7 separate regions of the Homo sapiens genome follow, and all the other regions are linked to region 1. Evidence: fine-mapped expression QTL. A gene starts in region 1. Each other region holds a variant in brackets. All regions are shown on one strand. Distances are from middle to middle.

Evidence for each region. PIP is the estimated chance that this variant, and not a neighbour inherited with it, causes the effect.
Region 2: its variant is fine-mapped to the expression of MUC20 in tibial artery (GTEx, PIP above 0.99). The same link has a PIP of 0.9 or more in spleen and whole blood.
Region 3: its variant is fine-mapped to the expression of MUC20 in skeletal muscle (GTEx, PIP 0.92).
Region 4: its variant is fine-mapped to the expression of MUC20 in blood mononuclear cells (TOPMed, PIP 0.92).
Region 5: its variant is fine-mapped to the expression of MUC20 in putamen (GTEx, PIP 0.96).
Region 6: its variant is fine-mapped to the expression of MUC20 in spleen (GTEx, PIP 0.94).
Region 7: its variant is fine-mapped to the expression of MUC20 in pituitary (GTEx, PIP 0.95).

Annotation. Positions count from the first base shown.
Region 1 is chr3:195,719,305-195,723,382 of GRCh38, forward strand. It overlaps MUC20 (mucin 20, cell surface associated), which reads left to right and starts at 1,674. Exons shown (of 4, transcript NM_001282506.2): 1 at 1,674-1,779. The coding sequence starts at 1,704.
Region 2 is chr3:195,746,606-195,750,679 of GRCh38, forward strand. It overlaps MUC4 (mucin 4, cell surface associated), which reads right to left. Exons shown (of 25, transcript NM_018406.7): 24 at 2,297-2,459; 25 at 166-775. The coding sequence ends at 571. Among named protein-coding and RNA genes, the nearest start is that of MUC20, 28 kb to the left of the region's middle. RefSeq lists a silencer at 937-1,103. The variant G/A (reference allele first, on the strand shown) is at 1,853.
Region 3 is chr3:196,030,257-196,034,334 of GRCh38, forward strand. The region is part of intron 1 of LOC124909478 (a long non-coding RNA gene); the gene reads right to left. Among named protein-coding and RNA genes, the nearest start is that of TFRC, 50 kb to the right of the region's middle. The variant G/A (reference allele first, on the strand shown) is at 1,642.
Region 4 is chr3:196,044,222-196,048,221 of GRCh38, forward strand. It overlaps the pseudogene ARL8BP1. Among named protein-coding and RNA genes, the nearest start is that of TFRC, 36 kb to the right of the region's middle. The variant T/C (reference allele first, on the strand shown) is at 1,733.
Region 5 is chr3:196,654,279-196,658,356 of GRCh38, forward strand. NRROS (negative regulator of reactive oxygen species) reads left to right here. Exons shown (of 3, transcript NM_198565.3): 2 at 249-369. The coding sequence starts at 262. Among named protein-coding and RNA genes, the nearest start is that of NRROS, 17 kb to the left of the region's middle. The variant G/A (reference allele first, on the strand shown) is at 1,633.
Region 6 is chr3:195,676,564-195,680,641 of GRCh38, forward strand. It overlaps the pseudogene SDHAP2. Among named protein-coding and RNA genes, the nearest start is that of MIR570HG, 9.9 kb to the right of the region's middle. The variant C/T (reference allele first, on the strand shown) is at 1,723.
Region 7 is chr3:195,761,801-195,765,878 of GRCh38, forward strand. MUC4 (mucin 4, cell surface associated) reads right to left here. Exons shown (of 25, transcript NM_018406.7): 9 at 3,470-3,649; 10 at 3,197-3,322; 11 at 2,245-2,364; 12 at 1,633-1,841; 13 at 1,055-1,145; 14 at 287-454. Among named protein-coding and RNA genes, the nearest start is that of MUC20, 43 kb to the left of the region's middle. RefSeq lists an enhancer at 350-851. The variant C/T (reference allele first, on the strand shown) is at 1,638.

The DNA.
Region 1 (4,078 bases):
TTTTTCTATTAAGATAAAAAACACTGTTTGGATCAGATAGTTTTTCTGTTTGTAAACTGGTGAATTTGTATTTATTTCATGGCTAAATTTCTTTTTTTCTTTTCTTTCTCTTTTTTTTTTTTCTTTTTTTTTTTTTGAGGCAGAGTTTCACTCTTGTTGCCCAGGCTGGAGTGCAATGGCGTGATCTTGGGTCACCACAGTCTCCTCTTCCCTGGTTCAAGTGATTCTCTTGCCTCAGCCTCCCGAGTAGCTGGGATTACAGGCATGCACCACCATGCCTGGCTAATTTTTTGTATTTTTAGTAGAGATGGGGTTTCTCCATGTTCGTCAGGCTGGTCTCCAACTCCTGACCTCAGGTGATCTGCCCGCCTCGGCCTCCCAAGGTGCTGGGATTACAGGCGTGAGTCACCGCGCCCAGCTTTCATGGCTAAATTTCTGAAGTAAAAGCTATAGGATCTTTGTGTGTGTGTATATATTTAAAAGGCCTTTATAATTTCTATAATTTTATGTTTAATTGGCAATTAAATCTGTTTTAATTTCCCTCCAGCACACCAGACTTTTTCTCTCCATACGTTATGATGTAAATTTTGCTATTCGATTTTCACCTCAGTTTCCTTAAAATGCAAATTCAAGGCTATTTAGCTGACAACCGCTTAGAGTAGTAAAACAGGTTATCAAGAATTCGAAGGTGTGGCTGGGCACGGTGGCTCACGTCTGTAATCCTAGCATTTGGGAGGCTGAGCCGCAAAGATCTCTTGAGGTCAGGAGTTCAAAACCATCTTGGCCAACATGTTGAAACCCCGTCTCTACTAAAAATACAAAAAAAATTAGCCAGATGTGGTGGCAGGTGCCTATAATCCCAGCTACTCAGGAAGCTGAGGCAGGAGAATCACTTGAAGCCAGGAGGCAGAGTTTGCAGTGAGTCGAGATCAAGCCATTGCACTCCAGCCTGGGCAACAGAGTGAGACTCTGTCTCAAAAAAAAAAAAAAAAAAAGTAAAAAAGAATTTGAAGGTGTAAGAAAAAAGCTCTTTATGAATCTATAAGATGAACTTCTTTCAGCATACCTAATACATCTGTGTATTTATGTGTTGTTGTGTACACAGTGTTTTGCTACTGAAAATATATAAAAGAGCTCTAATTAATTGGCTTAAGAAAATAAAAGCACTTGGCTGGGTGCAGTGGCTCATGCCTGTACTCCCAGCACTTTGGGAGGCTGAGGTAGGTAGATCACCTGAGGTCAGGAGTTTGAGACTAGCCTGGCCAACATGGTGAAACCCCATCTCTACTAAAAATACAAAAATTAGCCCGACGTGGTGGTGCGCGCCTATAATCCCAGCTACTCCAGAGGCTGAGGCAGGAGAATTGTTGGATCCCGGGAGGAAGAGGTTTCATTGAGCTGAGATCTCATTACTGTACACTCCAGCCTGGGTGACAGAGCAAGACTCCATCTCAAAAAAAAAAAAAGAAGCTAGTGATTCCATATCTTCAAATCAAATTTCAGTGGAGTGTTTACCGGGCAAGGAAGGCAGGGGGGTCAGCTTGCTGACAGCCTCAACCTGCCAGCCCTCAGCCTGCACATTTGTGATCACCTGGTCACACACCTGGGCAGGAGGCTGCCCCTCCTCCCTGGTTTGAGGAAGCAGGAAAAGGTACCCGCGAGAGACAGCCAGCAGTTCTGTGGAGCAGCGGTGGCCGGCTAGGATGGGCTGTCTCTGGGGTCTGGCTCTGCCCCTTTTCTTCTTCTGCTGGGAGGTTGGGGTCTCTGGGAGCTCTGCAGGTAAGGAGGCCTAGAAGGGCCTGGTGGGCCTCTCCCCTAGTAGGGCTCTGGGAGTGAATTTCAGTATGAGCCACCCTTCATGGGCAAGGGCAGGCTCTCTCGGGTTGATTATAATGAACCACAGTGCTACTTGTGAAGTGCTATTATTGTTGATAAAGAGTGTGCAAATGACAGTGTGAGTGTAAGCGTGCATGGCGCTGCAGTACACACTAATCAACCATGACGATGTGTGTGAGTGTAAGCGTGCCTGGCGCTGCAGTACACGCTAATCAACCATGACGCTGCCATCGTAAGGGATGGCTGAGAGTTTGTCTTTATGAACGTGGGACAGTAAGTGGGGCACGGAGCGGGGGTGCAGGGAGGTGCCAGCTGGTGATCATTGTGCAGAAAGCTGAAGAATGTGGCTTAACAAGATTCTGACTCCTCCCAGTTTATTACCTAGCATGGATTTCCTTCAAAATACAGATTTCGTGTGAAAAGTCCAACTGCCACAAACTGCTTGGGAAGGGTGGATGCTGACAGGCAGGGCTTTTGTGAAAGACGGGAATGAACCCTGACCTGTCGCTAATAGGAGTTGTGCCAAACTCATCACATACATTAAAAAATAGAAAAGGATTTATTTTTTTTTTAGTTCTATGCTCCCTCTAAACCTCGAGTGGAGAGGCCGGGCGTGGTGGCTCACACCTGTAATCCCAGCATTTTGGGAGGCTGAGGTGGGTGGATCACCTGAGGTCAGGAGTTCGAGACCAGCCTGACCAACATGGAGAAACCCCGTCTCTACTAAAAATACAAAATTAGCCGGGGGTGGTAGCAGGTGCCTGTAATCCCAGCTACTCGGGAGGCTGAGGCAGGAGAATTGCTTGAACCTGGGAGGTGGAGTTTGCAGTGAGCTGAGATCGCACCCTTGCGCTCTGGCCTGGGCAACAAAAGTGAAACTATGTTTCAAAAAAAAAAAAGCTGCAGTGGAGAGTCTGGAGTTCCCATCCCCACCACTCACAGCCTCCCCCATCATCAGCGTCCCCCACCAGAGTGGCACATTTGATAGGACTGAGGAACCTACTTTGATGCATCATTATCATACATTGTATTTTTAATCCTCACAACGGCCCTGCAAGATCGGCCCTGTTTTTACCACCCCCCACCTCCACTGCTTTAAGGGTGAGGCCACTGTGCTTCTGGGCATCCAGTAACAACTCCTCGGAGCCAGAATCTGACTCCTCACAGGCCTGAGCACTGCACCCCGTGGCCTCCTGCCTGTGCTCACCGTGGCCTGGTCTGCGCTGCACGTGTCCCGTTAGCTCCACCTTACAGGTGCGGAAATGCAGGCTTGGAGCTGAGAGACTTGGCCAGGGTCACAGGGCAGAGAGCAGATTCTCCAACTCAGGGTCCCAAGTCCACACGCTTTCCTCTCCACCAGATTTGAAGATTGTACCAGGAGAGCCGCAGTGTTCCAGAGCTACTGAGGGGCTGGGCTGGGATTTGCTGTATTCGAGAAGACCCCCTTGGACCCGAGAGGCTGTGGGCTTGGGGAGCATGAGGAGGTTTCACAGCAGAAAGGACACCCCGGGGCTCCTGGATAAGCCAGAAAATGTGCCAGGGGAAGTCGGGCTCCAAGGGCACCACTCTGGGCTTCCAGCTGTGTGGGCTGGACCAAGAAGGCTCAAAGAAATGATCTCAGGCTTGAAGTGGGGAGAAGAAACTGTATTATGAAGGCAGACGAACAGTTCCTGCAAAAGTGAGATTTGTGTGTGCAGCTGGGCCGCACTGGACCAGGGATGAGAGTGGGTGCCCGGGACTCGCCTATACTGCCTGGGGGTGCAGCCCGCACTCCTCACTATAGTCAGATCAACTATGCGTGCTTTCCAGTGGCCTGGGAGAGGACTCCATAGGGAGGGATGCTTACCTTGTGGGCTTTGGAATATAAGCCCTTTCACCTTCTCCGCTGGTCCTCATCACGTTGGCAAGGCAGGTATTGTGACCCTGTTTTCTCAGGTGAGGACATGGAGGCTGGGAGGGGTCTAGAGACTGGCCTGGCTAGTAGGAGGCTGAGTCAGGATTTGAACCAGCAGATCATCTGACCCCGGAGCCAGTCGTGGGCGGCACAGCGGGAGCTGCAACCGAGGCTCTTGACTCCTGCGTCGTCATTCCCTGAGGTCCACAGGACAACCAGTTGGGGACCTGGGGCCCCATCCTGATGCCCTGGGGAGAGGTGCTAGGCCCCTTTTGGGTCTATGGGCTACTTTTGGGCCAGTGGAGCTGGGTAAAGACCATCTCAAACCCTGTGCCAGGGGAGGTCAGA
Region 2 (4,074 bases), 27 kb after region 1:
AGCATGGGTAACCGGGCTGATTAGGACTGGATCCAGCTGCCCCTAATGCTCCACTGCTGCCCAGCACTTAACCTCCACACTCTGTGCCCTCTGATGGTTGGGAGAAGTCTGTGTCCAGCCCTTCGGCCACCAGAAGAAAATCAAGAATGGAATTCCTGGTTTTGGAGACACAAAAAGTCAGAGAGACTTTATTTAAATAGAGTTAATTTGAAGTAAACCAGAGAGTTTTGTGTGCAGAAGCATTTTGCTTAACTTAGGGCCATCACCACATTATGAACTCGTGTGTGTGTGTGTGTGTGTGCACGCGCGCGTGCACAGGCTAGTGTCCTTCTGTGGGTGTGTCTGCGTGAGGACCCATCCATGCATGTTTGATCTTTATGGCCTCCCCCTGTGCACCTGCGCCTATGGATAAGGTATAGTCTTGTCTTGATTCCCAGTATTCATTCTCCTTGAAGAATCCTGACAGCCTTCAGTCACCTTCCCTTTTCCAGTCTCCCAAAAGCAATGGCGCCTTAAATGTGCGGTAAGGATGAGGTGAGTCTTGAGGTAGCCTAGGCCACAGCTGCCCCTTCAAGGCAAGGCCTCAGCTGAGTTCAGGAAATAGGAGAACCTGGCCCCGGAGCAACCCCAGAAGCGCAGGACCACGAACGTCCCGACCCCCAGCAGCAAGAGGCCGCCCAGGGCCCCAAAGAAGATGCCGAAGAACGCGTCGAGTTTCATGCTCAGGTGCTCACAGTGCTCGCCCCAGGCCGTGTAGATGGAGAAGGACACACAGCTGGTGACCAAGAGAGACAGACAGGCGGTCAGAGGCGGGAGCTCAGCCTCCCAGCCCCTCCTCTTCTGCTGGGGAAGAAGAGGTTCTGTAGGAGAGGCTGGGCTCGCCCCACTCTCCGGAGAGACTGAGTCAGCCCTGAGGCCGTGCTGAAGTGAGACCACTGGGCAAAGGAGGCAGGTGTGGGCTTTAAAAACATGGGCCTGGGCCGGCGCGGGGGCTCACGCCTGTAATCCCAGCACATTGAGAGGCTGAGGCGGGCGCATCACTTGAGGTCAGGGGTTCGAGACCAGACTGGCCAACACGGTGAAACCCCATCTCTACTAAAAATACAAAATTAGCCAGGCGTGGTGGTGCGCACCTGTAATCCCAGCTACTCAGGAGGCTGAGGCAGAATCGCTTGAACCTGGGAGGTGGAGGTTGCAGTGAGCCGAGATTGCAACACTGCACTCCAGCCTGGGGGACAGAGCAAGACTCCGTCTCAAAAAACAAAAACAAAAACCTGGTGTGAATTCAGCTGCACGTGCAGTCAGCTGCACCTGGGCGGCAGGGATGCCGGCCACAGGTGGGCATGCGCAGTCACACCCCCGCCCCAGCCCGGCCCCGCCCCGCCCCGCCCACCCGGAGAGCCGGGCCCCGCCCCACCCGCGCTCCGCCCGCCCCCTCCTTCGGCGGGATCTGGAACTGCAGCTGGCGGAGGGCCCGGAGCCCAGGTCTGCGTGGGGCCGCGGCTTCCTGCGCTGTTAACCAGCGGAGCCCCGGGGACTGCTGATGAGGGCAGGGGCAAAGGCGCCTCGCTTGACTGAGGGGCAGGACTGGCCTAGACACAGGACTGCAGGTTCTTTTCCCACAAGGAGACAGCAGGGAAGCAGCAGCCAGATCAGGTGGGAGGGTTTGACTTTGGGCCCTGGCGCGGTGGCTCACGCCTGTAATCTCAGCACTTTGGGAGGCCAAGGTGGACGGATCACCTGAGGTCAGGAGTTCGAGACCAGCCTGACCAACATGGCGAAACCCCGTCTCTACTAAAAATGCAAAAATCAGCTGGGCGTGGTGGTGCATGCCTGTAGTCCCAACTACTCG[G/A]GAGGCTGAGGCAGGAGAATCGCTTGAACGCGGGAGAAGGACGTTGCAGTGAGCCGAGAACGCACCACTGCACTCCAGCCTGGGCGACAAATGACACTCCATCTCAAAACATAAAAATATAAAAAATGTTTGGCTTTGGAAACCATGCCCTGCTGCTTAACCTACTGCGTCCTGGGGCAGGTTCCTTGTCATCTCTAAGCTGCAGTTTTCTCATCTTCGAAATAGTTCTAAGCCCCCCTATGGCTCTTTTGGGTTTCAGAGTTTGTAATATAGCGCCTTTATTCTCCACACAGAGCAGGCACTCACAACTCTCCTTTTCCACTGTCCTCTCTTCCCTGGTCTCTGATCTCTCGAGCCATCCTAATTCCTGGACCCCTTGCAGTGTCTTGCCCAGCTTGGGTTCCCCAGCACTGTCCTCCACCTCCTGGCCACAGCCCTATGCACCTGCAGCGGGGCCCACTGGGCAGGTGCTGGCACTGGCCTCCATGGTCACAGTAGCCCCTACTGCACGGGGACACGCAGGTGAAGCCGCTCTGGGGGCTGTAGACCAGGTCGTAGCCCTTGTAGCCATCGCATCTGAAGTAAGCCTTCAGCGTGCTCACGTTCACTGTCGGGAAGGACACAGATTAACACAGAAAGCAACCGATGAACACTAAATCAGTACCTTTTCAGCCACGAATTCCTTTTCGGGTGTTTATCCTGAGAAATAATTGGAGAAGTGCACAGATACATATGCCCCTGGACGTTCAGATCAGCATGGTGGATAATAGTAACGTTTCAGAAGTAGGGTCTGGTTAAATAAACTACTGCACATCCTTACCAAGGGATGGTGCTTCCTATGGAAAAAGTTTCCTAGGGAAAAAGGTTCCTAGGGAAAAAGGTTCCTGTGGAAAAAGGTTCCTATGGAAAATGCTTTCCTGAAGAGCACATGCTTTGAAGGTGGCCAGACTTGGGTGGAAACTGAAACTCTGCTAGTGACTAGATGTGTAATTCAGGGAACATTCCTTCACTCTTTCAGCTTCAGTTTCCTTATCTTTAAAAGGAAATGATCATAATAGCACTTATGCTGCTGTGAGATTTAAATGAGATAATGTGTCCACAGTACTCAGTACAGTGCCGGACACACAGTAAGCACTCAAACAATGGTAATGATTATTATAATGTATTTTAAAATATGACACTATATTCAAACATACCATCATAATATGTCAAATGGGAATGTGGACAGAATATATGAGACAACCTGTTCACAACTGTTTAATGAGGAGGTTTTCCAACATTAGGAATGATTTGATCCTTCAGTAAAAAATGGATGTCTGAAGGTTCCTAGGCATAAAAGAAAGTTCAGAAGGATATGTAGGAAATACTGTTGTCTCTCTGGGGATTGGGATTACAGGGTTTTTTTCCTCTTTTCTTTTTGTTAAGTTTGTGTTTCCTAAAGTTTCTGCAATAAACATACGATGCTTGTATAATAAAAATTATAGGTTTTCCTTAATTGCATAGTCAGGGCTTGCCTCCCTGCGCCTCCTACCCCAACTCCCCAACATACAGTAGTTCTGAGGGATTTCACCCCCTGCTCCGGGAGAGAGCGGGCTTAGCCTGGATTCTGGGAGAAGCTCTTGCTTGGTCCCAGACCCAAGTAAAACAGCAGTTCCTGTTGTGTTTGGGGCGGCCCCTGCCCTGTTCTCTGCCCTATACAGAAAATAGGACGTGTTATTCCTTTGTTTCTCTGACAAGCTTGCCAACTTATTCCTGTTCCAGGAAAACCGGGGGCTGTCAGCACTGAAAGGGGGCTCAGAAATCCCATCTCATTTTCAGATGGGGGTGCTGAGGCCTGGCCTGGGGAAGGTGCTTGGGGAGTGTTGAGGCCTGGCCTCGGGGAGGTGCTGGGGGGTGTTGAGGCCTGGCCTGGGGAAGGTGCTGGGGGGTGTTGAGGCCTGGCCTGGCCTGGGGAAGGTGCTGGGGGGTGTTGAGGCCTGGCCTGGCCTGGGGAAGGTGCTTGCACAGGGTGACACCATTTCAGGGAGTAGTTGCCTCTGTCCCTGGCCAGTCTCCAGTCTCCAGCTTCATATCCTCCCGCTGGAGAGCAGAGACGATGGGGGTGTCCCTGTGTATGCTTAAGTGCAATGGCATTTTAAGAAAACTATTAGCAATTTTATGAAACTAAATTGCTGCTGTTTTATTAGCAGCCACAGTCAGCAAGGCCCTGGCTGGGTGCTTGC
Region 3 (4,078 bases), 310 kb after region 1:
TTCCAAAAAATAGAGGAGGAGGGGATACTTCCAAACTCATCCTACAAGGTTAATATTACCTTGATACCAAACCAGACAAAGGCACATTTTAAAAAAGAACAAAAGAAAAAAAACTTCAGGCCAATATCTTTGATGAACATTTATGCAAAAATCCACAACAAAATACTAGCAAACCTAATTCAGCAACATATTAATAATATCATTCATCACGACCAAGTGGGATTGATACCAGGGATGCAAGGTAGGTTCCACATATGCAAATCAATCAATGTGATACATCATATCAACAGAATGAAGGACAGAAATCATATGATGATTTTAATTGATGCCGAAAAAGTATTTGATAAAGTTCAACATCCCTTCATGATAAAAACCCTCAAAAAACTGTGTATAGGAGGAACATACCACAACACAATAAAAGCCATACACAACAGACCCACAGCTAGTCTCATACTGAAGAGGAAAAACTGAAAGTCTTTCCTCTAAGCTCTGGAACACCACAAGGATGCCCACTTTGACCACTGCTATTCAACATAGTGCTGGAAGTCCTAGCCAGAGCAATCAAACAAGACAAAGAAATAAAGACATGCAAATTGGAAAGAAGGAAGTCAAACTATCTTATTTCCAGATTATATGATCTTTTATTCGTAAAAACCTAAAGATTCCACCAAAAAACTGTTAGAACTGATAAACAAATTCAGTAAAGTTGCAGGATCAACAACTGCAACTTTGTTGATCAATGCCAATCAACAAAATCAACATACAAAAATCAGTAGCATTTCTATATGCCAACAGAGCAAGCTGAAAAAGAAATAAAGAAATTAATCCCACTTAACAATAACTACAAATAAAATAAAATACCTAGAAATAAACTTAACCAAAGATGTGAAAGATTTCTGCAATGAAAACTGTAAAACATTGATACAAGAAATCAAAGAGGACACACACAAAATGGAAAGATATTCCATATTCATGGATTGGAAGAATCAATATTGTTAAAATTTCCATATTACCCAAAGCAATCTACAGATTCACTATCAAAATAACAATGACATCCTTCACAGAAATAGAAAAAATAATCCTAAAATTCATATGGAACCACAAATGACACAGAATAACCAAACTCATCCTGAGCAAAAAGAACAAAACTAAAGGAATCACATTACCTGACTTTAAATTATATTACAAAGCTATAGTAAAGAAAACATCATGGTACCCACATAAAACAGATACATAGATTAATGGAACAGAATAGAGAACCCAAAAATAAAGCCATACATCTACAGTGAACTCATTTTTAACAAAGGTGCCAAGAACATACATTGGGGAAACGGCAAGTCTTAATAACTGGTGCTGGGAAAACTGGATATCCATGTAAAGAAGAATGAAACTAGACCCCTGTCTCTTGCCATATATGAAAATCAAATCAAAATGTATTAAGTTAAATCTAAGACCTGAAACTGGAAGACTACTAAAAAACAAAACAAAACAAAACAAAAACACTGGGGAAGTTCTCCAGGACGTTGGTCTGGGCACAGATTTCTGTATTATTATTATTATTACTGAGACAGAGTCTTGCTCTCTCACCCAGGCTGAAGTGCAGTGGTGTGATCTCAGCTAACTGCAACCTCCACCTCCCAA[G/A]TTAAAGTGATTCTCCTGCCTCAGCCTCCTGAGTAGTTGGGATTACAGGCACCCGCCACCACACCTGGCTAATTTTTGTATTTTTAGTAGAGATGGGGTTTCACCATGTTGGCCAGGCTGGTCTCAGTCTACTGGCCTCAAGTGATCTGCCCACCTTGGCCTCCCAAAGTGCTGGGGTTACAGATAGGGCACAGATTTATTGAGTAATACCCCACAAACACAGGCAAACAAAGCAAAAATGACCAAATGGACTCACATTAAGTTAAAAAGTTTCTGTACAGCAGAAAACAATCAACAAAATGCACATAAAACCCACAGAATGGGAGAAAATATTTGCAAACGATCCATCTATCAAGGGATTAATAGTCAGAATACACAAGGAGCTTAAACAACTCAACATGAAAAATCTAATTATCTGATATTAATATGGGCAAAAGATCTGAATAGACTTTTCTCAGAAGAAGACCTTCAGATGGCAAACAGGTTATGTAAAGGTGCTCAACATCATTGATCATCAGAGGAATTAAAATTAAAACTACAGTGAGAGATTATCTCGCCCCAGTTAAAATGTCTTTTGTGCAAAAGACAAGCAATAACAAATGCTGGCAAAGACATAGAGAAAGGGGAACCCTCATACACTGTTGGTGGGAATGTAAGTTAGTACAACCTCTATGGAGAAGAGTATTGAGTTGCCTCAAAAAACTAAAAATAGAACTACCATATGATTCAGTAGTCATCTGCATATACCCAAAAGAAAGGAAATACCAAAAAGAAAAGAAATCAGTATATCGAAGAGATATCACTATGCCCATGTTTATTGTAGCACTATTCACAATAGCTGAGATTTAGAATCAATCTAAGTGTCCCTCAACAAATGAATAACGAAAATGTGGTGCATATACACAATGGAGCACTATTAGGGCATAAAAAAGTGGCCAGGCACAGTGGCTCATGCCTGTAATCCCAGCACTAGGGAGGCTGAGGCAGGTGGATCACCTGAGGTCAGGAGTTCAAGACCAGCCTGGCCAACATGGTGAAACCCCGTCTCTACTAAAAATACAAAAATTAGCCGGGCATGGTGGTGTGCTCCTGTAATCCCAAGCTATTCAGGAGGCTGAGGTAGGAGAATTGCTTGAACCCGGAAGGCAGAGGTTGCAGTGAGCCGGGATCATGCCACTGCACTCCAGCCTGGGCAACAAGAGTGAGACTCCATCTCAAAAATAAATAAATAAATAAATAAAATAAAATGAGATCCAGTCATTTGCAACAATATGGATGAAACTGAAGGACATTATATTGAGTGAAATAAGTGAGACACAAGAAGACAAACTTCACATATGCTGTCACTTATCTGTGGGAGCTAAAAATTAAAACAATTGAACCCATGGAGATAGAGAGCAGAATCACAGTTACCAAAGGCTGGGAAGAACAGTGGGGGAAGCGGGGAAGAGAATGGGTAAAAAATATAATTAGATGAATAAGATCTAGTATTTGATAGCACAGTAGGGTGACTATAGTCAACAATAATTTATTATACATTAAAAAAACTAAAAGATTATAACTGGAATGGTTATAACACAAAGAAATGAAAAATTATTGAGGTGATAAATTTTTTAAAAAGTGGTGGGGCTGGAGCCGTGGCTCATGCTTGTAGTCCCTGCACTTTGGGAGGCTGAGGCAGGAGGATCGCTTGAGTTCAAGAGCTGGAGACCAGCCTGGGCAACATGGCGAGACCTCGTCTCTCTCCACAAAAAAATTAAAAAATTAGCCAGGCATGATGGCACGTGCCTGTAGTTCCAACTACTCAGAAGGCTGAGGTGGGAGGACTGCTTGAGCCCAGGAGGTTGAAGTTACAGTGATTGTGCCACTGCACTCCAGCCTGGGGGACAGAGGGAGACACCAGTCTCAAACAAAACAAAACAAACAAACAAACAAAAAATGTAGTAAAAATGGCCATTGTTTCCTTGTTCTTGATTTTATAGATGAACAATTCAGTTTTTTATCATAAATTTTGGATGCTAGCTGTAAGTTTTATTAGGTGCCATTTTATTAGTTTGAGAAAGCTTCCTATTATCCCTAGTTTTATAATGAAACGGTGTAAATCTGCACAAGATGCTATTTCTGCATCTATGGCATGATCATGCATTTTCTCCTTTATTCTGTCAATATGGTGAATTACCCTGATTGATTTTTCATGACTTTATTGATATATAATTTACATACAATAAAAATCATCCTTTAAGGCGGGGCACGGTGCCTCATGCCTGTAATTTCAGCACTTTGGAAGGCCAAGATGGGCGGATCGCTTGAGCCCAGGAATTGGAGACCAGCCTGGCAACATGGCGAAACCCTGTCTCTACAAAAAAATACAAAAATTAGCCAGACACGGTGGCATGCACCTCTAATCCCAGCTACTTGGGATGCTGAGGCAGGAGGA
Region 4 (4,000 bases), 320 kb after region 1:
AGTGTTAAATTTGAGGTCAAGGAGAAGAAAGTGGACCACAATTTTATATAGGTAATATTTTTGTGATGGAAGTAAAATAGACATGCAGATTTAAAAATAATAATTGTATATATGGGTCTACTCAGATGTCCTGATTTTACGTTAATTTTGGTAATTTGAATATATCAATAAATTCGTCTACTTATATTTAAGTTGTCAAATTTGGGGACATAAAGTTGTTCAGAGAGCCAGACGCAGTGACTCACACCTAGAATCCCAGCAACTCGAGGCTGAGGTGGGAGGATCACTTGAGGCCAGGAGTTCAAGACCAGCTTGGGCAACATAGCAAGAGCTTGTCTTTAAAAAAAAAAAAAAAAATTAAGGCCGCTACCGCCGGCCTGTGCCCGCCTGTGTGGCGCGGGCCTGGAGGAGCCGTCGTGGGCTCGGGTGGAGGCTGCTCCTGTGGAGGGTCGTCCTGGCTCACAGCCGCCATCATGCTAGCGCTCATCTGCCGCCTGCCGGACGGTCCCCTTCGCTCGTCTGGAAGGAGGAGATGGAGCCGATGCTCGTGGGCTGCAGTACTCGGGCAAGGCCACCTTCGTCACTGCCATCACGTCAGGTGAATTCAGCGGAGATATGACGGCCACAGTGGGTTTCAACACGAGGAAAGTAACTAAAGGTCATGTCACAATAAAGATCCAGGACCGGCCGGGCGGTGGCTCACGCTTGTAATCCCAGCACTTTGGGAGGCCGAGGCGGGTGGATCGCCTGAGGTCAGGAGTTCGAGACCAGCCTGGGCAACACGGTGAAAGCCCCATCTCTACTAAAAATACAAAAAATTAGCCGGGCGTGGTAGCGGGTGCCTGTAATCCCAGCTACTCGGAGGCTGAGGGAGAAGAATCGCTTGAACCCGGGAGGCGGAGCCTGCAGTGAGCCGAGATCGCGCCACGTCACTCCAGCCCGTGTGACAGCGACGAGTCAAGGCTATTGTTTACAGGATAGATGCTGCAGATCGTAAGAAGATAGAAGCTTCCCGAAACGAGCTACATAATCTTCAACAAGAGCAAAACTCCAAGTCAAAAACAAAACAAAAAAAAATTGAGACTTGTTTTACCACCCAATGTATTAGTCCATTCTCACATTGCTTTAAAGAACTACCTGAGACTGGGTAATTCATAAAGAAAAGAGGTTTAATTGGCTCATGGTTCCGCCGGCTACACGGGAAGCATGACTGGGGAGGCCTCAGGGACTGCGCCATCATGGCAGAAGGCAGAGGGGAAGCAGGCGCATCCCACACGGCTGGAGAAGGAGGAAGACAGCAAAGGCGCTGCGCACTCTCAAACTACCCGATCTCGTGGGATCTACCATGACAGCAGCAAGGGGGCATTCCGCCCCCGTGATCCAACCACCTCCCACCAGGCCCCCTCCTCCAACACTGGGGATTACGATTTGACCTAAGATTTGGGCAGGGACACAAATCCAAACCGTATCACCCAGTATATGGTCTATCTTGCTGAATATACCACATATACCTAAAAAAAGTATATTTTGCAGTTGTTGAATGTGGTGTTCTACAAATGTCAAGTAGATTGAGGTGGCTGATACAGTGGTTCAAATAATTTGTCCTGATTTTTTTGGTCTAGCTTCTCTATTTACTGCTAAGAAATGGGTGTTAAAATCTATTTTAATGGCAGAATTTTCATTTCTTTTTCATGTATTTTAAGGTGCATACGTATTTATAAGTCTGCTATCT[T/C]CCTGAATGGCTCTCTTTACAATTATAAAATATTCCTATCTTTACGGTACTATCTGTTCAAAGTCTATTTAATCTTATATTTATATAACCATTCCAGTCATAGTATGCTAGTGTACATATTGTATTTTTTCCCCTTTCAATTCATCTGTCTTTAAAGTTTCTTATAGGCAGCATATAAATGGGCCTTGATTGTTTTTTAATCATCAGTCTTGATTAGAATGTTAACATGTCAATAATGTAATTATTGATATGGCTGGACTCAGCATGCCACTTCACCAGTTTTTTTGTTTGTTCCTCTTTTGGTTCCTGCCAATTCTTTCCCTTTTGAGGTCACTTCTCCAAGTTTTACTCCCCTCCACTGTTTGCCTACCTTTGTTTACATCTCAGGTTTGGGAGAGTTTTCCCCCCGTCTTACTGAGCTTCTGGCTGTAAGCAGCAGGAGGGATAGGTTGTAGGAGGCTTATGTGGTGACTGTGGAACCAGAGCCCCCATATATGCTTTTAGGAAGATCTGGTATAGAATTCTCATTTATGCACAGACAACTTTGAAAATGTACATAAGAAATCGGTAAATGACCAGGCCCAGTGGCTCACACCTGTAATCCCAGCACTTTGGGAGGCTGAGGCAGGTGTATTACTTCAGTCCAGGAGTTTGAGACCAGCCTGGGTAATAAGGCAAAACCCCATCTCTCAAAAAATACAAAAATTAGCTTAGCTGGGCATGGTGTTGCCTGTCTGTAGTCCCAGCTACTCTCAGGAGGCTTAGGTAGGATAGCTGGAATCCAGGAGGCGGAGGTTGCAGCAAGCTGAAATCATGCCACTGCAATCCAGCCTGGGTGACAAGAGCGAGACCATCTCAAAATAAAAAAAGAAAAATTGGTAATTGTGGAGATTTAGAGGGATGACAACTCTGGAGACTAAGAGGAAAATACTTTTTAATACAGACTTTTCTGCACTTTGACCGTATGTGAATATTTTCAAAAAAGGCATTAAAAATTATACAAAGCTGGCCAGGTGCGGTGGCTCACGCCTTTAATCCCAGCACTTTGGGAAGCCAAGGCGGGCGGATCACCTGAGGTCAGGAGTTCGAGACCAGCCTGGCCAACATGGCGAAACCCCATCTCTACTAAAAATACAAAAATTAGCCGAGCATGGTGGCATGCACCTGTAATCTCAGCTACTGGGGAGGCTGAGGCAGGAGAATCGCTTGAACCTGGAAGGCAGAGGTTGCAGTTAGCTGAGATCACGCCATTGCACTCCAGCCTGGGCAACAAGAATGAGACTCCATTTCAGAAAAAAAAAAAAAAGAAAAGAAAAGAAAATTATACAAAGCTGTCCATTTGGGGTGGATTAAGCATGAGGCAGCTTAAAGGGCAAATGCAGCAAACTGCAAAGGCTTTATTTAACTCAGCACCTAAACCTGTTGACAGCCACAAGGAAGACATTGGTATCTGATATTGAATTCTAGGCAAAGCTGTCTTGCAGATAACCAGGTGTTTTACAAATATTTGTTTAGGACAGCTTCCTAACCCATGACCTTTCACATAGGCAGTTTCTCCCGTAGAATACAGCAGTTTAATAATCATCTTGCTTCTCAAGGGTATGAATGTGGCTAATTTGGACACGGGAAAGCTGGGGCATAGGTGAGGCAATTAGGCTTCCAATTCTAGGGGCCACAATTTTCGTGGCCATACTTAAGAATCCTGGCTGGCACTCATAGCAATGAGATTCAATTGTGTGATGGATTTTTTGGTAACCACACGGTAGAAGGCCAAAATAAGAAAACTCTCAACAATTACGCCTTTTGCTATAGAGCTGGTGTCCACTAACCATGTGGCTACTGAGCACCTGAAATGTGGCTAGCCAAAACTGAGATGTGCATTGCTTGAGGTACAAGGGAGTTTGAAGACACGGTATGGAGCACACCTGTAATCCCAGCCTCTCAGGAGGCTGAGGCACAAGAATTGCTTGAACTTGGGAGGTGGAGGTTGCAGTGAGCTGCGATGGCACCACTACACTCCAGCCTAGGCGATGGGGCGAGACTGTCTCGGGAAAAAAAAAAAAAAGGAGGCAGAGCGTGGTGGTGGCTCACACCTGTAATCACACACTTTGGGAGGCTGAGGTGGGCAGATCACTTGAAGTCAGGAGTTCAAGATCAGCCTGGCCAACATGGTGAAACCCCATCTCTACTAAAAATACAAAAATTAGCCAGGCGTGGTGGCCCACACTTGTAATCCCAGTTGCTCAGGAGGCTGAGGCAGGAGAATCA
Region 5 (4,078 bases), 930 kb after region 1:
GTGTTCAGCCACCCGTCCATCAAGTGGTAGAGGCAAAATGAAATTGAGTTCTTGTCAACAGTTTCAGTGAAAGGCCGGAAGTCTTGGCTAAATGGAGGTATCTGAGTATCCTGTGGGCTGCACCTCTATGGAGCTCCACAGAGCTCCAAGACCACATAGAATTGGAACTGGCTCCTTCTGCCGATAATACAAACAGCCCTCTGGGATGTCCTTCTCTGACTTACCTCTTCCCTGCTCTCTGTCCACAGGGCTGCCCTTGAGATGGAGTTGCTGCCTCTTTGGCTCTGCCTGGGTTTTCACTTCCTGACCGTGGGCTGGAGGAACAGAAGCGGAACAGCCACAGCAGCCTCCCAAGGAGTCTGCAAGTTGGTGAGTTTCCCTTGAACCCTGATCTGTCGGCTGCTCCTGTCCTGACAAGGCTTGGTCCATTTGGAAAGCTGACAGATTGTCCATCAGGAAGGGCAGAGAATGAAGGAGCCTGCATCACTCTGTGCCTGCCTAGCACAGGGGCATGTGCAGCTGCCCTTTAACCACAGGATTTTAAGATGCTTCCTGGGAAGAGCCAGGCAGTCCCTGCCCCGCCGTTCTCACGCCTGCTGAGGATAGGAGGCATCCGAGACCAGCCTAGGGCATCCTCCCGGAACAAGAACAACTTGTTAAAAATCTGGATGATTCAGGCCGGGTGCAGTGGCTCAGGCCTGTAATCCCAGCACTTTAGGAGGCCGAGGCAGGCAGATCACTTGAGCCCAGGAGTTGGAGACTAGCCTGGGCAACATGATGAAACCACATCTCTACAAAATACAAGAATCAGTCAGGTGCGGTGGCACACACCTATAGTCCCAGCTACTTGGGAGGCTGAGATGTGAGGGTGGCTTGAGCCCAGGAAGTGGAGGTTGCAGTGAGCTGAGATCATGCCCCTGCACTCCAACCTAGGTGATGGGGCCAGACCTTGTCTTTAAAAAAAAAAAAAAAAAAGCCAGGCGCGGTGGCTCACGCCTGTCATCCCAGTACTTAGGGAGGCCAAGTCCGGCGGATCACCTGAGGTCAGGAGTTCGAGACTAGCCTGGCCAACATGGTGAAACCCCGTCTCTACTAAAAATACAAAAATTAGCTGGGCGTGGTGGTGCATGCCTGTAATTCCAGCTACTTGGGAAGCTGAAGGAGGAGAATCGCTTGAACCCGGGAGACGGAGGTTGCAGTGAGCCGAGATCACACCCCTGCACTCCATCCTGGGCGACAGAGTGAGACTCTCTCAAAAAAAGAAAAAAACAAAACAAAACAAAAAACTGGATGACTGAGCTGCACCGATGGTATGAGAATCTCCGGGTGAGGTGCTTGAGAGCTGGAGAAGCCTGCCTCGGAGTTTGTGGACGAGTTGACCGCTAAGGCTTACACAGCTGCGGGGAGGACTTGCTGCCATGCCACTCTGCAGAGCGGCAGCCCGGACCACGCTCAGGCTAAGAAGACCCGGAGCGTGGATACCCAAGCCTCCTCTAGGGCTTTCAGCCTAGATGTGAAAATAGACTTGGGTCCAAACTGAGAAATTTCCAGTAATTTTCCCCTTCATCTATATAACAATGATATCAAAAGTCTGCTCAAGAAACACATATTTAGGCCAGGTGCATGGCTCAC[G/A]CCTGTCATCCCAGCACTTTGGGAGGCCGAGGCGGGCAGATCACAAGGTCAAGAGGTCGAGACCAGCCTGGCCAACATAGTAAAAACCCGTCTCTACTAAAAATACAAAAATTACCCAGGCATGGTGGCACATGCTTGTAGTCCCAGCTACTCGGGAGGCTGAGGAAGATTGCTTGAACCTGGGAGGCAGAGGTTGCAGTGAGCTGACATCGTGCCACTGCACTCCAGCCTGGGTGACAGAGTGATACTCCATCTCAAAAAAGAAAAAAAAAATGAAACACATATTTAATAAACATTTCTTGAGCCATATTATATACTAGGCGTTGGGAAGACAAATTGGATGTCAGGGCTAACACTTACATTCAAGTATGTATTCTTAAAGCATAGCTGTCATGGTTTTTAACCTCTTTTAGTAGGAACCTATAACCACTGTGCTAGAGTCTATTCCAATATGACATAGAGGTTACAAGCTAGACTGGCCTGGTTTAAACCCAGCCCCACCCTTAGCTGGTGACATTGGGGTCACTCTAGGTCATAGTTTCTCCATCTGTAGAATATATACGTAATAATAATATCTACCAATAACATCATGCTGTGTTGACTGATGATTAAATGGGTTAATACATGTAAAGCACTCAGGACAGTGCCTGGTAGGTAGTCAGTGCTACGCGTTTTATCCGTTATCACTCATATTATTATTAATCTCTGCTATGTTTGACCTCCAGCATTCTCTTACAGAGGCAATAAAGGATTAACTACACAGTAGTTATTCAGGGGTTACCAGGCACAGGAAGAGGAGAGATAAATGAACAGCCTTTCAGAGTTCAGGCAAGGCCCTCTGCTTGACACTTTCTGGCCCAGTGGGCAGGAGTAGAGAATTGGCTGCCAGGAAGCCCAAAGAGTGGGTTTCCTGTGGCTCTTCCGAGTTGAGGACTGAGAATTGGAGAGTCTGGGTGCCCTCCACTGGCCCTCATCACATTATCCATTTGACCTTATTAGAAAGTGGACGTTGGCCAGGTGCGGTGGCTCCCGCCTGTAATCTCAGCACTTTGGGAGGCCGAAGCAGGCAGATCACCTGAGGTCAGGAGTTTGAGACCAGCCTGACCAACATGGTGAAAGCCCGTCTCTACTAAAAATACAAAAATTAGCCAGGCATGGTGACGGGCACCTGTGATCTCAGCTACTCAGGAGGCTGAGGCAGGCGAATCGCTTGAACCAGGGAGGCCGAGGTTGCAGTGAGCTGAGATCGCGCCACTGCACTCCAGCCTGGGCGACAGAGCAAGACTCCGTATCAAAAAAAAAAAAAAGAAAAAGAAAGTGGACATGGTAAGCTTTTCTGGGATGGCCATATGGTCCTTCTACATCACTTCAGCGGGGCCACAGGGAATTGCAGAGGTGTGACCCACGACTGCAGCAGCTGTGGTGGAACAGCACCCCATAGCGTGAAGAAAGCCCCTGACCACAACATTCTCCAGTGAGTCCACACGCAGGGAGGAGCGCAACACCCACTCACATAAAGACACACACCTGGCCGGGCGCGGTGGCTCACACCTGTAATCCCAGCACTTGGGGAGGCCAAGGCAGGTGGATCACCCGAGGTCAGGGTGGCCAACATGGCAAAACTCTGCCTCTACTAAAAATACAAAATTAGCCCGGTGTGGTGGTGTGAGTCTGTAATCCCAGCTACGTGGGAGGCTAAGGCAGCAGAATCGCTTGAACCCGGCAGGCAGAGGTTGCAGCAAGCAGAGATGGCGCCATTGCACTCCAGCCTGGACGACAAGAGTGAGACTCTGTCTCAAAAAAAAAAAAAAAAGATAAAAATTCTCTTCCAGAGTACTTTGTAATTATAATGCAATCCCAATCAAAATACCAAAGAGGGAAGGGGGATGTGGAAAGAACTTGGCAAATCCTTTCTAACGTTCGTCTGGAAATTAGAGAAACCCAAATGCTCAACAATAGGAGATGATTAATTAGATCATCCTAATAATTATAGCTCACATTTATTAAGCACAGTAAATGTGTTTCACCTCAACAGTCACACTTGATCCTGAAAAAAAACGCTATGCGAAAATGACGAGTATAATTTCGGTTTTACAGGCAGGGTAATGGAGGTCTCTTTCGGTTCCGTAACCATCCAAAGGTCACCCATTTGATCAAAAGCAGAGCCACGAAGCATTGGCCCTGGAACTCTTGCTCTCAGCCACTGTGCTATTCATGAGATGAATGCATATGCTTCCTAAAAAGATTATGATCACATTTATTTGTACTGCCAAGGCAATAAGTCCGTCATACTTTATTGACAGGGGGAGAAAAATAGGTTACTGAACAGTTTGCACAGTATGGTCTTATTTTTGTTTTTTAGACAAAGGTAGGTAATATCTTACGAAAGATCCAGAAAGACATGGAACAGAAGGTGACTGGTGTTTCTCTGAGAGAGAGGCGGAGG
Region 6 (4,078 bases), 43 kb before region 1:
CTGCATGTGTTACCTATTGAAGAAAAAATACATATAATTTTATAAAAAAAAAAAACCTTTAAAACTTTTTTCAAGACATCTTGGAAACACAAGAGTTGCAAATCTTGGCCGTGCGCAGCAGCTCACACATGTGATCCCAGCACTTTGGGAGGCTGAGGCAGGTGGCTCACCTGAGGTCAGGAGTTCGAGACCAGCCTGGCCAACATGGTGAAACCCCATCTCTACTGAAAATACAAAAATTAGCCAGGTATGGTTGCAAACTCCTGTAGTCCCATCTACTCCAGAGTCTGAGGCAGGAGGATTGCTTGAACCAGGAGGTGGAGGTTGCAGTGAGCCGAGATGGTGCCACTGCACTCCAGCCTGGGCTACAGAGCAAAATTCCATCTCAAAAAAAAAAAAAAAAAATTGCAAATCTTGAAGTATAGGTGAGAGCACACAACAGTCCAAATCAGCAGGTGACTTGCAAGCACACAGCAGCCACCTTCCTCCCCCTAATGTGAAGGACAGTGGGGCGGCCGGCCCCTTGGGACCACCATCTGGAAGGTGTCATTTTTTCCCGTTAGTGGAGTGACATTTATATACACTTAATGTATATAAATCTGTATACATTTAATTTTTTTTTTTTGTAAGACAGGGTCTCGCTCTGTTGCCCAGGCTGGAGTGCAGTGGCGCGATCTCGGCTCACTGCAACCTCCACCTTTCGGGTTAAAGCAGTTCTCATGCCAGATAATTTTTGTGTTTTTAGTAGAAATGAGGTTTTGCCACGTTGGCCAGGCTGCTCTTGAACTCCTGACCTCAAGTGCTTCACCTACCTCAGCCTCCTAAAGTGCTGGGATTACAGGCGTGAGCCACTGCACCTGGCCTACATTTTAATTTTTTAATTTTAGAGATGATTTCTAGTTTATTCACTCTAAGATCACTTAATGGATATCTACTGTGTGCCAACAGTTTTGCCTTTTATGTCTGTTCTTTAAAATTGGCCCCAACTCAACAGATGGCCTCAGATGTAGGGTGGGTTGGCAGTGTGTTAGCTCAGGAGACTTACACCGTTTCCAGGCTCCTTGAGCGGCTATGCTACATTTTTGTGTGTAGTACTAAATCCATTTGTTTTTTTAAAACGGTTTTCAAAAGTTAAATTCTAGCTCTTTTTGTTGTTGTTTTAGGAGATAAAGTCCCTCCAATTAAACCAAATGCTGGGGAAGAATCTGTCACGAATCTTGACAAATTGAGATTTGCTGATGGAAGAAGCATAAGAACATCGGAACTGCGACTCAGCATGCAGAAGGTAAGAGCCTGGACTCGCTCTGGAGTGAGCAGGCTGGCTGCATACCTGGCCCTGCACTGGTTTTGTTTTTTTAAAAACAGATCTAGGGGGATGCAGGTGCAGCTTTGTGTGGATGTACTGGGAGGTGGTGGAGTCTGGGCTTTTCATGTACCTGTCACCCAAGTCGTGTGTGTTGTACTCAGCAGGTAATTGCTCATCCCCACCCCTCCCGCTTTTTGGAGCCCACAGTCTGTTAGTCCACTCCGTGTGTCCATGTGTACTCACCGTTCAGCTCCCACTTCCAAGGGAGAATGTGTGACACTTGACCTTCTGACTCACTTAGGATAGTGACCTCCCATTCCATCCGTCTGGCTGCAGAAGACATGATTGCATTCTTTTTTTATGGCCAAGTAGTATTTCATGGTATATATGTACCACATTTTCTTTATCCGGTCGTC[C/T]GTTGATGGGCACTTAGGTTGATTCCATGACTTTGCTATTGTGACTAGTGCTGCAATAAACATACGAGGCTGCACCAGTATGTGGAGGTAAACAGCAGTAGGACATACTCCTCACTGTATCAAGAATATGAAAGAGACCAGAAGTGCACTTCTTCTCCACATAGAAGGTCAGCAGGCCAGGGCAGAATTAGTGACTGCTTAGCATCCAGGACAGCCTTCTGTGGTTCACTCGTGTGTGCTTGGGCATGACCTCCGTGCCCTGACCGTCGCTGGCTGTCATGGATGAGTCACAGTGTGGAGGAGAGGGAGCCGCAGGACTGCCGGAGAAGCTCCGTCCCCAGCAGGGCAGCTTTCTCTTAGAGGTTTCCTGGAGTTCAACACAACACTGGTGCTTACATCTCAGGCCCAGATATTGATCATGTCATCATGCCTGGCTTCCAGCAGCTCGGAAACGTCTTTAAGCTAGACCTGTTGCTGCCCCTAAATATACTCAGCAGAGAGGGAGAGTGGGCGGCAGGTGGACAGTGATCTGTGCGGCCTGTGCTGCTGGGAGTCGGTCCAGTAGGACCGTCTGTGATGATGGAAATGTTGAGTGTTTGCCGTCCAGTATGGCAGCCATTAGCCATGGGGCCGTGGAGAACCTGATATATAGTCAGTCTAAGAAACTCAATTCCTCTAATAACAAGGATTCTTGTCCATGAATGAGATCTCTTGTCTGCTATTTGCAAGAATTTCTGCGTATTTTCTAGAAAGAAGTCCACTGCTTTAGTCCTATTCTGAAAGGCATTTGGTGTTAGACACAAGAGAACAGGTTCCCTGCTGACAATTTTCAGAGGCCCGTGCCCTTCGGTCTTCAGGTGAGGCTGGGCTTGAGGGAGGTTTTGTGGAACGGTGAGAAGAACAGCGTGACTAAGGCACAGAAGGCTGAGTGATGCCCTGCAGTGCTTTTGTAGGGTTGGAGGCCAGCTGGGAAAGAAGGAACCCTTGCGTTAGAGAATGGGAACATGCCTTAGGATATAGAAATGGCAAATCTGAGATAGTTTGAAGTGAGAATACTAGAAGTGTTCCCACCAAACAAGGTGTGTCTTGGTGCCTGCTGTATCCCAGGCTCCGTGAGGTGCCGGAGTCAGCACTGAACAAACAGAGCTTCCTATGCTTGCGGAAATGCATTTCGTTGGGGGAAGGGATTTTTCTGCTGACTCTGGCTATTAATAGTAACAATCAAAAAAAGAAATGAGGTAAATTGATAGAAACAGGCCCCCAAATGTGGCCATAAACTGGCCCCAAAACTGGCCATAAACAAAATCTCTGCAGCATGTGACGTGCTCGTGATGGCCAGGACGACCACGCAGGAAGGTTATGGGTTTACCGTAATGAGGGCAAGGAACACCTGGCCCACCCAGAGTGGAAAACCTCTTAAGACCTTCTTAAACCACAAACAATAGCATGAGCGCTCTGTGCCTTAAGGACATGCTCCTGCTGCAGATAACTAGCCAGACCCATCCCTTTATTTCCTGTAAGGAATACTTTCAGTAAGTCTTATCACTGGCTTGCTGTCAATAAATACGTGGGTAAATCTCTGTTTGAGGCTTTTGGCTCTGAAGGCTGTGAGACCCCTGATTTCCCACTCCACACTCTATATTTCTGTGTGTGTGTCTTTACTTCCTCTAGTGCCACTGGGTTAGGGTTTCCATGACCCAGCTGGTCTTGGCAGTAAATATTGAAAAGGAATAGATACAGTTGCCATTATTTACAGATATAATTTCCAAAAAATTTCCAGAGAATAAACGGAAAAACTAACAGAAACAAAACAAGAATGTAGTAAGGTATGTGTATAAGAGATTTGTATGTAAAAATCAGTAGCTTTGCAATGTGCCAGCAGTAATCTGCTCAGACATCAGTAAATATCTCATTCGCATTTCAAACAAAAAATTTAAAATGCCTTGAAATAATGTAACCAGAAATACGAAAAGATGATATGAAAACGTCGCTGCTAAAGGACATGAAAGAATGTAATACTAGATTCTGAGATGCAATTTTTTTCATTTGTTCTTCCTGAAAAACCATTAGGTTGATGTGCATTACAGTGTTACGATTATGTATGAGTCTAAGGAAAATCAGATGAAATGTCCAAATTGAACCACGAAGGTGCATTGGTAGAGGAAGAGACAATTAGGGTCAGTGGAGCAAAGCACAGTTAGAGGGAGAAGCAAGGAGGAGGAGGGATCACGGAGGTGGTGCCTGTGTGTCCCACAGGAAGCAAAAGCTGATGCCCAGTTCCCAGCATACCTAAGTAAACTTCAGGTCCACTCCTAGCACGTTTCTCGTGATAGTAAAACTATGAAGGAACTCAGTG
Region 7 (4,078 bases), 42 kb after region 1:
GGCGGGAGGATGTGGGAGGCAAGAGGAAAGGGAGAAAGGATGGCTGTGCCCCCCGCCTCCCCGCAGCCCCCCCTGATGCTCCCTTAGAGCGGGCGGAGGACAGGAAGGGAGCCTCGGGGGAGGCTGGAGAAGCCCCTCGGCTCCCGGCCCGCTCTGTGCCCCAAGGGTTCTGCTCCAAGGAGGCGGAGAAAGGGAGGCCGAGCAGGGCTGCCCGGGCCGCCGGCGTGGGGGTCCGAGCTCCGGCTGGCTCCGCGGAGCCTCAGAGGCAGGTCCGAGCCGCCCTCACCCAGGAGCCCCTCCGTGCGGTTCTGGTACTCGGGCGGGAGGCTGGCGGAGGCGTGGAGGATGTTGGAGAGCGCGATCACCGAGACGGTGGCCCAGCCGTCGAAGCTGGCCGAGACCTCAGAGCCGTTGCGGCTCAGGAGGACTCCGGTGGCGTTGAACGTCTCCTGGCCTGGAGCATCGGGAGGCAGCGGAGAGGAAGCCAGGTCGGCACCACGGCCCGCACCAAACCCGCGCCCTGCCGGGCCCGCACCACCCCCACCCCGCCCCTGGGGCTGAAGCCGGGAGGGGTCTGCACTGGAGGCGGAGAAGAGGCCGGCGAGCTGCACGCCCCGCTCGGGGGTAGAGGCTGCGCTCTCTTGGCCCTGCACCGCCACGCACCGGGCCCTGCACCGCCACGCACCGGGCCCGGCACCACAACGCACTCGGCCCTGCACCGCCACGCACCGGGCCCTGCACCGCAACGCACCCGGCCCTGCACCGCAACGCACCGGGCCCTGCACCGCCACGCACCCGGCCCTGCACCGCCACGCACCCGGCCCTGCACCGCCACGCACCGGGCCCTGCACCGCCACGCACCGGGCCCTGCACCACAACGCACCCGGCCCTGCACCGCAAAGCACTCGGCGCGGCACCGCCACGCGCCCGGCCCTGCACCACAACGCACCCGGCCCTGCACCGCCACGCGCCCGGCCCTGCACCGCAACGCGGCTTCCCGCCCACCTCGCTGCTCCCGGTGCGGGGAGGGGGCGGCCGGCGCTCCCCAACCTACCTCCGCCGTCTTCATGGTCAGGCTGAAATGTCACAGTCTGGTTATCCAGCAGGACACGGATTGCGTCGTGAGGCTCAAGGAGCCATTGGACCTGGAAGGAGATGGGAGGGGGCCTGAGCCCGACCCGCAGGTGGAGCCGACGCCCAGGAAAGCAGCTGGGAGAGCCCCTGGGGCTGGAAGCTGCGCCCTGGGCCGGGAGGAAGGCGCTGGAGGCCGCGGCCTGAGGTGATGCCAGCCGCCGTCTACCGTGTGCTCGGCAGGGCCAGGCATGGTTTTCGGATTATGCCCTTTAGCTCTTACAACAGCCCGTGAGGCAGGTAATGTCATCCCCATTCTTACTAGGAGAAAACCAAATTAAGTAGTTTCTTCGAAGCCAAGCAGCTGGGAAACCGTGGGGCCAGAGCCCTAATCCACCATCCCCAGGATTTACTCCGGGACAGCTGCGTGGATGGGCTGTGTCCTCCCTCCCTCCTGCCCGGCTTCCCCTCCTTCGCTCTCTTCCTTCTCCTCGGCCTCAGTATGTGGCTGAAGGTCCCTGTGGGTGGAATGCAGGGAGGTTCCCGGCACCCCTCACTCACCGTGA[C/T]GGGGCCCAGGCTGCTGGAGCGGTACTGAGCCGCAAAGGCGATGAAGTTGGTGGCCTGGGCTGAGCCAGTCTGGGCGGTGCGGCCCTGAAGCAGGAAGGAGGAGTTCCCGTCTTGGGCCCCGACCAGCAGGAAGTCCCCCAGCCCATTGAAGGTGTAACTGACACCATCCAAGGTGGTGATGTGGGGGTCCCCGAACATCCAGGCTGGAAGGAAAAAAGAGATGCTGCCTCAGCATGACAAATCATGTGTAGGGCTGAGGTTCCTCACTGCAGTCAGGTGCGGCACTTGTCCAGGAGGACTCAGGGTGAGGTTCCTCACTGCAGTCGACTGGGGCACTTGTCCGGGCGGACTCAGCTGGGGAGATGTTCACAGAGCACAGAATCCTCCCCTCAAGCCTCCTTGCATTTTCGTGCCCCGCTATTCTCACTCCTTCCCCAACTCAGGTACAAAGCCCCTCCACTGACCATCCACCCATCACTGGCGTCATCTCCATCTTCCCTTGTGGCCACAGCTCTGCCCCTACTCCTTATCCAGATGCCACCTCCCGGAAGCCCAGAAGCTCCCCCTCCCCAGAGGCTCTTCCTGGGCCTGGGCCCTGTCGCTCACCGGGCTGTGGGGGCCTGTATGTAGCACAGCCCACGTGGGGCCGCCTCTGCTGGTACAGGGCACAGAGGTAGGGCTTGTCATTCCAGCGGCAGCACCAGCTCTGTGGCTCCAGTTCCTGGGCTGCGGAGAACAGCAGTGAGTCGGGGAGGTTGAGGACCTGGAGAAGCTTGGCAGGGCAGGGTGGTGTTGGTTGAGAGCTTGGCAGGGCAGGGCGGTGTTGGTGGAGAGCTTGGCAGGGCAGGGCGGTGTTGGTGGAGAGCTTGGCAGGGCAGGGCGGTGTTGGTGGAGAGCTTGGTAGGGCAGGGCGGTGTTGGTGGCAAGAGCATGGCTTTGGAATCCAGCATGGCCCTTCTCATGACCTTGGGCAGTGAATAGGGTGCTGTCTCTTTTGCAGGCATTGGGGCCACTGTGCAGCAGGGCGCATGGTAGGAGCTAAGCAAATTTCCTGTCTTGAGGGTGGAGAGCCAAGTACTGCTGCTCTCAACGTGCTGGGAGTGGGGAGGGCACGGCTGACGGTCTGGGAACTGTGGAAACTGCCATGGGACGGGGGAGAGAACGGGAGGACACAGACCACGTGACCCCACACCCCTGCGCTCTCCAGCTCCCTTGGAGCGTCTCTGTGGGAGCTGACTCTCAGTCTTCCCCCAAACATCCTGCTCATCTGGGTCTACAGGGACGGGGTCAGCCTAGGCGCTCTCTTCTTGCCTGGAGAAATGGCCCCACTCTGGCCTGGGGATGTGGAGCCAGGTATAGAGATGAGGAAAGAGGCTCTCAGCTCATACATCCCCGAATGTCCGCTGGTGGGGATGTTGGAAGCTTCCTAACGTTACCCGATCAGGAAGTGGAGGCCCAGAGAGGGGAAGGGTCTGGGAAGGAATGAGGACGAGAGGCTTCATGCTGAGGGTCCCCTACTTGGCCGGGAAGGTGGGGTTGAGATCACGGACTCACGCACCCAACTGCCAAGGACGCTGCACGTGCCAGCCTTCACGAAACTCTCCCCAGGGCCCGTAGCTGCAGCACACGCCTCCTCGCCAAGAGGTGAAGCTGCACAGCTGCCTACTGCCGAGGCCCCAGCGACCTGAAACAAGTCCAGTCCCACTCAGGCCCAGGCTGGGGCTGCCAGGGGCGGGGTGGGAACAAGCAGGGGCTGTTTCTGGGGAGAGGCTGAGGGCGTGAGCAGAGAGGGTGGTGGGTGGGCTTGTGGGGGGCGGGAAGGAGGTGTCACCTATGCTGACGGGTTGGAATCGTAAGTCCCGTCGTCCCTGCTGCCAGGAACAAGGGCAGGAGACCTGGTTCCAGCCCCAGCTGGGCCACCGAGGCTGGCTCTTCAGCCACTGCAGGCACTCGAGACGGTAGTTGGGCCTTTCTTCCCGGTGTAGCCTGTAGAACTGCAGCCCTTGGAGGCCTGAGGTCGGGGATGGGGGGGAAAGGGCTTATCCAGGGCTGGGGCTGCAGGCCCTGTCTCAGCTTTAGGGTCAACCAAAACTCACAAATGCACCCCCTCCTGCCACTTCTCACCTCTTTGGACCCAAGTCAGATGGGCAACAATTCCTCCCCCAAAGCCCCTCGCTTGACTTAGCGTCTGCTTCTGACGACCAAACGTGGTTGCCACAGAACAAATAGAACTGGATTTACACTTCACAGTTCACGTGGCTGGTTTCTAAGGCTAAAATGTCCTTCAACCTATCACATTTTGGAAACTATTATTTCTTTCCCATTGGGGCCTCTGGACTGAGTCATGGAGAAGGCGCCATTGTTTGCCTCTTGACGCTTGTCTTTCTACCCGCATGAAAGCTCTTTGAGAGAAAACACAGTTGGTCTTTTTCCTTTGTTT